2 separate regions of the Homo sapiens genome follow, and region 1 is linked to region 2. Evidence: fine-mapped expression QTL. Tissue or cell type: whole blood. Region 2 holds a variant in brackets; the other region holds the start of a gene. All regions are shown on one strand. Distances are between the middles of the regions. Region 1 holds the start of IGSF23 (immunoglobulin superfamily member 23). Region 2 has its middle 33 kb from the start of IGSF23.

Region 1 (4,389 bases), 33 kb after region 2:
GCGAGCAGAGATCACACCACTGCACTCCAGCTTGAGCAACACAGCAAGACTCTGTCTTTAAATAAATAAATAAAAATTTAAAAACAGAAAAAAGAAAAATTGCTTTATTCCCCAGAGTTCCAATAAAATCCGTAAGAGATTGCTTCTCCTTGGCCTGTTCTGAGTGCCACGCCCAGGTCTCCAAAAATCACTGTTGTCAGGGGATGAAGTGCTCTGATTGGCCAGTCCTGGGCCCCTCACCTCCCTGGAGCCATGAGGAGGCTGGTTTCCAAAAGAGAACTCCAGGTGCTGTTACCTGGATACAAGAGAGTACTGGCTGGGTAGAAACCCCAGAAACCTTACAACATAATGGTTATTAACTGCATCGTAAATATTTACTTTTTCCTACAGTGGTCTCCTGACCTAGCTAATCACTCCAGCAGAGGCCTTCAGACCAACTATAAAAAAGGCACTTTAGCAAATGCTAATAAAGAAATAACTGTGTCACCTGATAATGACTATTATTAGAGACTTATGGGTGAACCTTAGCCCCTGGGTGGAACCTGAACCTCTCTGGGAGGGAAAAGCATGAGCTTCTAAGTCAGAAAGATCTGAGTTCAAGTCTGAACACTCCCATTTCACTCACTTGCTCTTCATTCATTTATTCACTAAAAAGAAAACATGTAGGCTGGCTAGGTGGTTCATGCCTGTAATCCCAGCACTCTGGGAGGCTGAGGCAGGAGGATCACTTGAGCCCAGAAGTTTGAGACCAGCCTGGGTAATATAGTGAAACTCTATTTCTACAAAAAGAAAAAAAATTTAATTGGCTGGGAATGGTAGTGTGAGACTGTAGTCCCAGCTACTCAGGAGACTGAGGCAGGATTATTGCTTGAATCCAAAAGGTTGAAGCTGCAGTGAGCTATGACCGTGCCACTGCACTCCAGCCTGGCTGACAGAGTGAGACCCCGTCTCAAAAACAAAAACATGTATTGAGCACCTGTTATATGCAAGGCACTGTTCTAGTCACTAGGGACATAGCCACAAGCCAGACAACATCCCTGCCCTCCTGGATCTGATATTCAAGTCGGAGAGGTGGGACTAAGGAGGGAGAGACAGATAATACAAGTGGACAAATAAATAAATCATCTAAAATAGCGGTAAATGATGTAAAGAAAACAAAACAGTGTGGCTTGCTAGCAAAGAGGTGGGGAACTGAGTTGCAGCAGGCATTAAGAAAGGCCTTTTTGATAGAGTGATGTGTGTGAATTAAGCCAAAATAATAAGATACAGTCAGCTTTGAGATTACATGAGTAAGGTTCTAAGGAGAGGGAACGGCTCATGCAAAGCCCCTGAGCTGGTGCCTCCAAAAACTGGCAGAAAGCCCCTGTGAACGGTTGTGTGATGGTAGGTGAGTTACTTAGCCCCTGTGCACCACGAGAAAATGGGGATGCTCATATCTACCCCTCGAGGTTGCTATGAGGATTCAAATTAGGCAACCCTGTTACAAGGTTAATGCTGTGTCCGGCATATAGTAGGTGTTCAATAAACACCAGCTATTAGTTTGAGTAATATAATTATTAATTTGAGGAGGAAAGAATGGACCTGGGGAGTGAGAAGGGTGAGGAAAAAGTAGCTAGTGTAGCTTATCCTTCTAGAATCTAAAATTCAGGATATAGTCTGAGCAAGCTCCTGATAACGGGATTCTAAACATGCCTCCAGGACATCCTAGACACCAAATTATAATTAGCATTGACTTCATAGTGACTGCCATTCGTTGAGCGCCTACTACGTGACCAGGCACTACTCCAAGCACCTTGTGTCCACGGCCCTGTCTGACTCTGGGGCAGGCACTATTATTAACGCCTCCATTTTACAGAGGAGAAAAGCTGTGGTTCAGAGTCCAAAGCCCCGTCACCTCCTACCAGGTTGACCTTTGGCCATTCCTTGCCTTTGATGTGAGTGATAGGAGCGGGCGATTCTGCTTCTCCCTCCATCTCCCGGCGGGGATTGTACGGTGAGAGAATGAGAGCAAAACCTCAGAGCCCCCTTCCCAGGAACCCTGTCCCAGCCTGGTCCCCACCCACCACCACCACTGACCCGATGCTAGAGAAGGATGCGGCTGGAGGTGACTTCCCAGCCAACTTGGTGTAAGTCATGTGGGGAAGTGGCCAGGGTAGGGCATGGTCATCGTGAGCAGGGTCCTGCAGGGTGAGGCCGGGGCTGCAGACGCGACTGTACAGGTCTATGAAGACCCCATGTGTGATGAGGAGACCTTCTCTGCACAGTCCCTGGACAGAACACGAGATGAGGGGTCCTCTGGACGTCAGCTCCAGCCACACCCCTACCTGGAGGAAGCTGCTTTTAACAGGTGCGTTGGAGACAGCGGCTTCACCACGGGCCAGGGACAAGGAGGAGAGTGTCTCCTTACGAGTCCAAGTCACCCCCACTCAGAGCTTTGACCCTGTCAGTTTGAGGCCCATGCAGCTCAGGCACCCAACTCATGAGAACTCTTGAAGGCCACTCCGCCACAAGAGATGACCCTATTGGCTTCTTTTAGGAAGAAGGGAAGTGAGGCGCAAAGAGGAGAACAGGTCACCTACCCAAGATCACAGGGCTGGCAAGGGGCAGGATCAGAATTTGGGACCCCAGCCCAGCCCCCTTCCACCAGAATGCCCTGTCTCACCCCTGCAATCCGCAACTTAGTAATAATACATATAAATAATAACAATCATAAAATAATAACAGCCGTAATAGAAGGTCACTGTAACTGAATAGATCTATATACCAGCCTGTTTGGGGTTTTTGTTTTTTTGTTTTGTTTTGTTTTGAGACAAGGTCTTGCTCTGTTGTCCAGGCTACAGTGCAGTGGCCCGATAATGACTCATTGCAGCTTCAACCTGCTGGGCTGAAGCTGTTCTCCTGCCTCAGCGTCCTGCGTAGCTGGGACCATAGGTATGCGCCACCAAACCCAGCTAATTTTTTATTTTTAGTAGAGATGAGGTCTTACTATGTTGCCCAGGCTAGTCTCGAACTCCTGGGCTCAAGCGATCCTCCTGCCTCGGCCTCCCCAAGTGCCAGGATTACAGGCGTGAGCCACTGCGCCCAGCCTGTCAGCCCGTTCTAAGTGCTTTCCTATAGTAACATTTACCTCTTATCACAACTCTTTGAGATCAGAGCTGTACGATCCCTATTTCACAGAAGGGGAAACTGAGGTTCAGAGAGGTCATGTGCCCTCTCCAGGTCACACACTTGGAAGTGGCAGACTGAAGATTTGAAGCCAGATGGGCTGGCTTCCCAGACCACACTTTCCAGAGACCACACACATCTGCCTCTCAGATAGTGAATGAATTGCTTCCTTATCCAGGTCTTAAAAGTTCACTTCTGAGTTGGGCGCGGTGACTCACACCTGTAATCCCAGCACTTTGGGAGGCCGAGGCAGGCGGATCACGAGGTCAGGAGATCGAGACCATCCTGGCTAACACGGTGAAACCCCGTCTCTACTAAAAATACAAAAAATTAGCCAGGCCTGGTGGCGGGCGCCTGTAGTCCCAGCTACTCAGAAGGCTGAGGCAGGAGAATGGCGTGAACCCGGGAGGCGGAGCTTGCAGTGAGCCAAGATCGTGCCACTGCACTCCAGCCTGGGCGACAGAGCACGACTCCGTCTCAAAAATAAATAAATAAAGTTCAGTTCTGAGCCGGGTGCAGTGGCTCACGGGTGCAGTGGCTGGGATTACAAAGTGCTGTAATCCCAGCACTTTGGGAGGCCAAGGCGGGCGGATCATCTGAGGTCAGGAATTCAAGACCAGCCTGACCAACATGGAGAAACCCCGTCTCTACTAAAAACAGAAAATTAGCTGGGCGTGGTGGTGCATGCCTGTAATCCCAGCTACTTGGGAGGCTGAGGCAGGAGAATTGCTTGAACCCAGGAGGCGGAGGTTGCGGTTAGCTGAGATGGTGCCATTGCACTCCAGCCTGAGCAACAAGAGCGAAACTCCATCTTTAAAAAAAAAAAAAAAAAGTTCAGTTCCATGTAATTTTAAAACCTCAAAGTCCACCTAGTTCAAAGCTTTGCTCTGTCCCCAGCTCAGGCAGGTGTCACACTGGAAGGAGGAAAGGGACGTGGTGGGCCTCTTCCCTATTTTGTCAGAGCTGTTGTCTGAGGCCTCTCTCAGGGCGGAGGGCAGAGGGGAGGAAGGAAAGAAAAGGAGATTGGAAAGTTTCTCCTAGGCTGCTGTAGTTTTGTGATGGAAACACGGCATGCTGTGTGTTGCTGGATCTTCCTGGGGGCGGGAGGGTGGGGTACTTTGGAAATTGGCTGTGCCACTGGATAAAACAGCAACCAGTTTTTAGAAAGTGGTTTACAACATGTTTGCAAAGTGAGCTGGGGGAGCTTACAAAACATTGTCCAAA
Region 2 (4,389 bases):
AGAGCCAGTCTCTGATTCTAACACCTGCTTTACATGGCTATGTGACTCTGTGACTCTGGGCAATTTACCCACATCTCTGGCTATTCTCTCTCTCTCTCTCTCTCTCTCTCTCTCTCTCTCTCTCTCTCCTTCTCTCTCTCTCTCTCTCTGTCTTTTGAGACAGAGTCTCACTCTGTTGCCCAGGCTGGAGTGCAGTGGTGTGATCTCGGCTCACTGCAGCCTCCGCCCCCCAGGTTCAAGTGATTCTCGTGCCTCAGCCTACCAAGTAGCTGGAACTATGGGTGCACACCACCACACTCGGCTAATTTTTTGTATTCTTAGTAGAGACAAGGTTCACCATGTTGGCCAGACTAGTCTCGAACTCCTGACCTGAGGTGATCTGCCCACCTCAGCCTCCCAAAGTGCTGGGATTACAGGCTCGAGCCACCATACCTGGCCTGTTTTCTCTTAAACACTTATTAATCGTTTGCTGTGTGCCGGGAACTGTTCTGTGTGCTTTACAAATGGCAATTCATTGAACCTCCCAACAACCCTGTGAGGCAGGGGTTAGAGCTACCCATTTTGCAGATGAGGAGACTGAGGCCTTGAGAGTTTAAATGGCTTGTTGAAGTTCACACAGTGCAAATTGCAGAGCCAAATCTGAATCCATGGCATCGGCGACTATACGGTGCTGCCTCTGGGCCTCCATCCTCATCTGGAAAATGGGGCCCATAGTAACAGTGTCATATCGTTTGGATGTTTGTCCCCTCCAAATCTCATGTTGAAATGTGATCCCCAATGATGGATGTGGGCCTAGTGGGAGGTTTTTGGGTCATGGGGCAATCCCTCATGAGGCTTTGGCGCCATCTTTGCGGTAATGAAGGCATTCACGCTCTGTTCATTCATGCAAAAGCTGGTTGTTTAAAAGAACCTGGCAGGCCGGGTGCAGTGACTTATGCCTGTAATCCCAGCACTTTGGGAGGCTGGAGCAGGAGAATCACTTGAGCCCAGGAGTTCGAGACCAGCCTGAGCAACATGGTGAAACCCTGTCTCTACAAAAATTAGGCAGGCATGGTGGCATACACATGTAGTCCCAGCTACTTGGGAGGCTGAGGCAGGAGGATCACCTGAGCCTGGGAGGCAGAGGTTGCAGTGAGCCAAGCCTGCACCACTGCACTCCAGCCTGGGTGACAGAGTGAGACCCTATCTCAAAAAAATAATAATAAATAATAAAAAAATAAAGGCTGGGCACAGTGGCTCATGCCTATAATCCCAGCACTTTGGGAGGCCAAGGTGGGCAGATCACCTGAGGTGATCAAGACCAGCCTAGCCAACATGGTGAAACCCCATCTCTACTAAAAATACAAAAAAGTAGTTTGGCCTGGTGGTGGGCACCTGTAATCCTGGCTACTTGGGCGGCTAAGGCAGAAGAATCACTCGAACCGGGGAGGCAGAGGTTGCAGCGAGCCGAGATTGTGCCATCACACTCCACCCTAGGCAACAAGAGTGAAATTCCATCTCAAAAAAAAAAGAGCCTGGTATCTCTCTTGCCTCTCTTTCACTAGGTGATACTCAGCTTCCCCTTCACCTTCTGCCATGATGATAGGCTTCCTGAAGCCTCATTATGAGCTGAGCAGATGCTGCCATGCTTGTACAGTCTGCAGAACCATGAGCCTAATAAACCTCTTTTCTTTGTAAATTACCCAGCCTTAGGTTTTCCTTTATAGCAATGCAAAGCAGATTAATTCACAGTGCCCCCTTGTAGAGGAGCTGAGAGGACTAGACTGTTTATGTCAAGCTCCTGGAGCAGGGCCTGGCCCATCCTCAGTGCTCGGTAAGTATCAGAGAGTATCATCAGTTACGGGACTATCCTATTTTCCTACCTTCTTTATCGTTTCATCATTTCTGTTCATCATCGCCTAAAGCCTCCTGCCTACTATTTTCCAGGCTCTCAAAATGGGGTTTCTTTGATTTTCATAGCAGCCCGAAGGGGAAGTACAATCATTGCCCCATTTTGCAAATAAGGAAATTAATCAGAGAGGTCAAGTGACTTACCTCAGATCACACAGATGACAGAGGTGGAGCAAGAAATTAATTTGGCTTGTCCTACTCAAAGATTCCCTGCCCTGCAACTTCCCCTTTAAGACATGATTGTTTAATAGAGTGAGTCTGGGACAATGCACATTTGTCAGGTACGCAGGCTCTGGGAAGCTGGAAATGGGACCAGCCAAGACTAGAGCTCTGATATAA[C/A]CTCTGAGAAATGCCCTCCCCAACCTCAGTTCTCAGCCACACCCTCACCTACGAGCAACGCTCCCATCCAGGGCTCACCCCAGCCATGGGGAGCAACCAGGAACCGGGCCATGGGTCCTTTAGGAGTGCTTCCTCCTAGAAGGACATTGGTTTGCGGAGAACAGACTGCAAGAACCCCAGAGTGAGCCGATTTGTGTGTCCTGCCCGGAGCCCTAGCCCAGAGAGGAGATGGCCCAGCCTTCTGTCCCCATGATGAGGGCCGTGCCCATGGGGCATTGGTGGCCAGCCAGGGAGGGACTGGCACAGCCCTCTTCGGTTTACAACTGTTCAATGTCTCATTAACTTCTCCTCTTTGGTCATGTCTCTGGCCCAGCATTCGTGCCCTTTGCTCTTCCCAATCATCCTCATGGTAGGCAAACGTGGGAGGGCAGGGGACTGCATGCTCCCCTCCTGGCTTCCTGCTGTATAAATGGGGAAACAGAGGCCCCAGGAGAGCAAGTGATCCCCCCAGGACCATACAAGGAGTCTGAAATCTGGCCCTGACTGGATTCCAGTCTTTGGCTCAAGCCTCAGCCAGAAGTCTCATCCTGCATATCTGGCCCAGTCTGAAGACTCAGGTGGGAGACAGGAAATGAAAATCTTCAGGAGCTTCAGGGAGGCTCATTGGAAAGAAAAGGAAACTTGTATTTACTGAGAAACCAGCTTTGCCGATGCAACAGCAAATCCTGAGCTCAGCGTTCAAATTTCTCCAGAATCCAACCACTTCTCACCAGCTCCACCCACACCAGCACCATCTCCCACATGGACCATTGCAGTAGCCTCCTCACTGGGCTCCCTGCTCCTGCCCTCCTGCTAACACCTAAGTTGTCTCATGTCCCTTGCCTGCTCAGAGGCTTCCTGTGGCTTCTGTCTCACTCAGGAAAATGCCTAAGTCCCAACACTGGCCTGCAAGGTCCATGGTCTGGCCCCATCCCTGCCCCACCCTTATCTCCCGCTTCCTCCCTTACTCCCCGCTCTCCAGCCACACTGGCCTCTCCACTGTTCATCAACACTCAGGGCACAGTCCTGCCCCAGGGCCTTTGCATTTGCTTTACTTTCTGCCCCAAACACTCTTCCCAAGATAGCCACATGGCTTTTTCCTTCACCACAGTCAGGACCCTGTTCAGATGTCACCTCTTCAGAGAGGCCTTCCCTGGCTGTCCTGTGTACAGCCTAGCACTTCCTGTCCCACCTGTCTGGTTTATTTCTTTCCAACACACTCATCGCCGTGTGACACTCTCCACTGATTTGTGTTTGTTGATTGCTCTCCCTAATATCAGTCCCTTAAAGGCAGGGATTTCTACCTGGTTTTTTTAATTCTATTTTATTTTTTTAGAGATGAGGTCTTGCTATATTGCCCAAGCTGGTCCTAAACTCCTGGGCTCAAGCGATCCTCCCACGTTAGCCTCCCAAGTAGGTGATTCTACAGGTGCAAGTGACTGTACCTGGCCCCTCTGCCTGTTTTGTTCACTCTTGTAAATGCCCAAAGCCTAGCGCAGTGCCTGGCACATGGTAGGTGTTCAATAAATATTTTGTGAATGAATGTGTGAGACCCTGCACTGAGCAGTTGAATCCAAATTAAGTGCAAGTTTCCATCCCCATGGCCATCAGGCTAGAACAGAGAGGCTCAAAAAGCCCCCCAGCCACACACCCTATAAGGGGAGGAGTTGGTATTTGGACCCACATCTAATGCCAAAGCCTGCATTCTTAACCACTGCATTACACTGCTCCTGGATTTAGGGATTTTACTGATGAGACCCACAGAAAGTGTAATAGCCATCCCCACTGATGCCCCTCCCTTAGTTAACGAAGAAATCTCAAAGATAAGAATCAAAGGGCCAGGCGGGGTGGCTCATGTCTGTAATCCCAGCACTATGGGAGGCTGAGGTGGGTGGATCACCTGAGGTCAGGAGTTTGAGACCCAGCCTGGCCAATATGGTGAAATCCTGTCTCTACTAAAAATACAAAAATTAGTATTGGCATGCCTGTAATCCCAGCTACTTGGGAGGCTGAGGCAGGAGAATTGCTTGAAGTGGAGGTTGCAATGAGCCAAGATTGCACCACTGCACTCCAGCCTGAGTGACAAGAGCAAAGCTCCATCTCAAAAAGAAGAAGGAGAAG

What was found.
Region 1: it holds the start of IGSF23, and the variant in region 2 is fine-mapped to the expression of IGSF23 in whole blood (TOPMed, PIP 0.91).

The regions. Positions count from the first base shown.
Region 1 is chr19:44,611,645-44,616,033 of GRCh38, forward strand. IGSF23 (immunoglobulin superfamily member 23) reads left to right here and starts at 1,919. Exons shown (of 5, transcript NM_001205280.2): 1 at 1,919-2,126. The coding sequence starts at 2,002. RefSeq lists an enhancer at 3,331-3,832.
Region 2 is chr19:44,578,208-44,582,596 of GRCh38, forward strand. No RefSeq gene overlaps it. Among named protein-coding and RNA genes, the nearest start is that of IGSF23, 33 kb to the right of the region's middle. RefSeq lists an enhancer at 90-621. The variant C/A (reference allele first, on the strand shown) is at 2,230.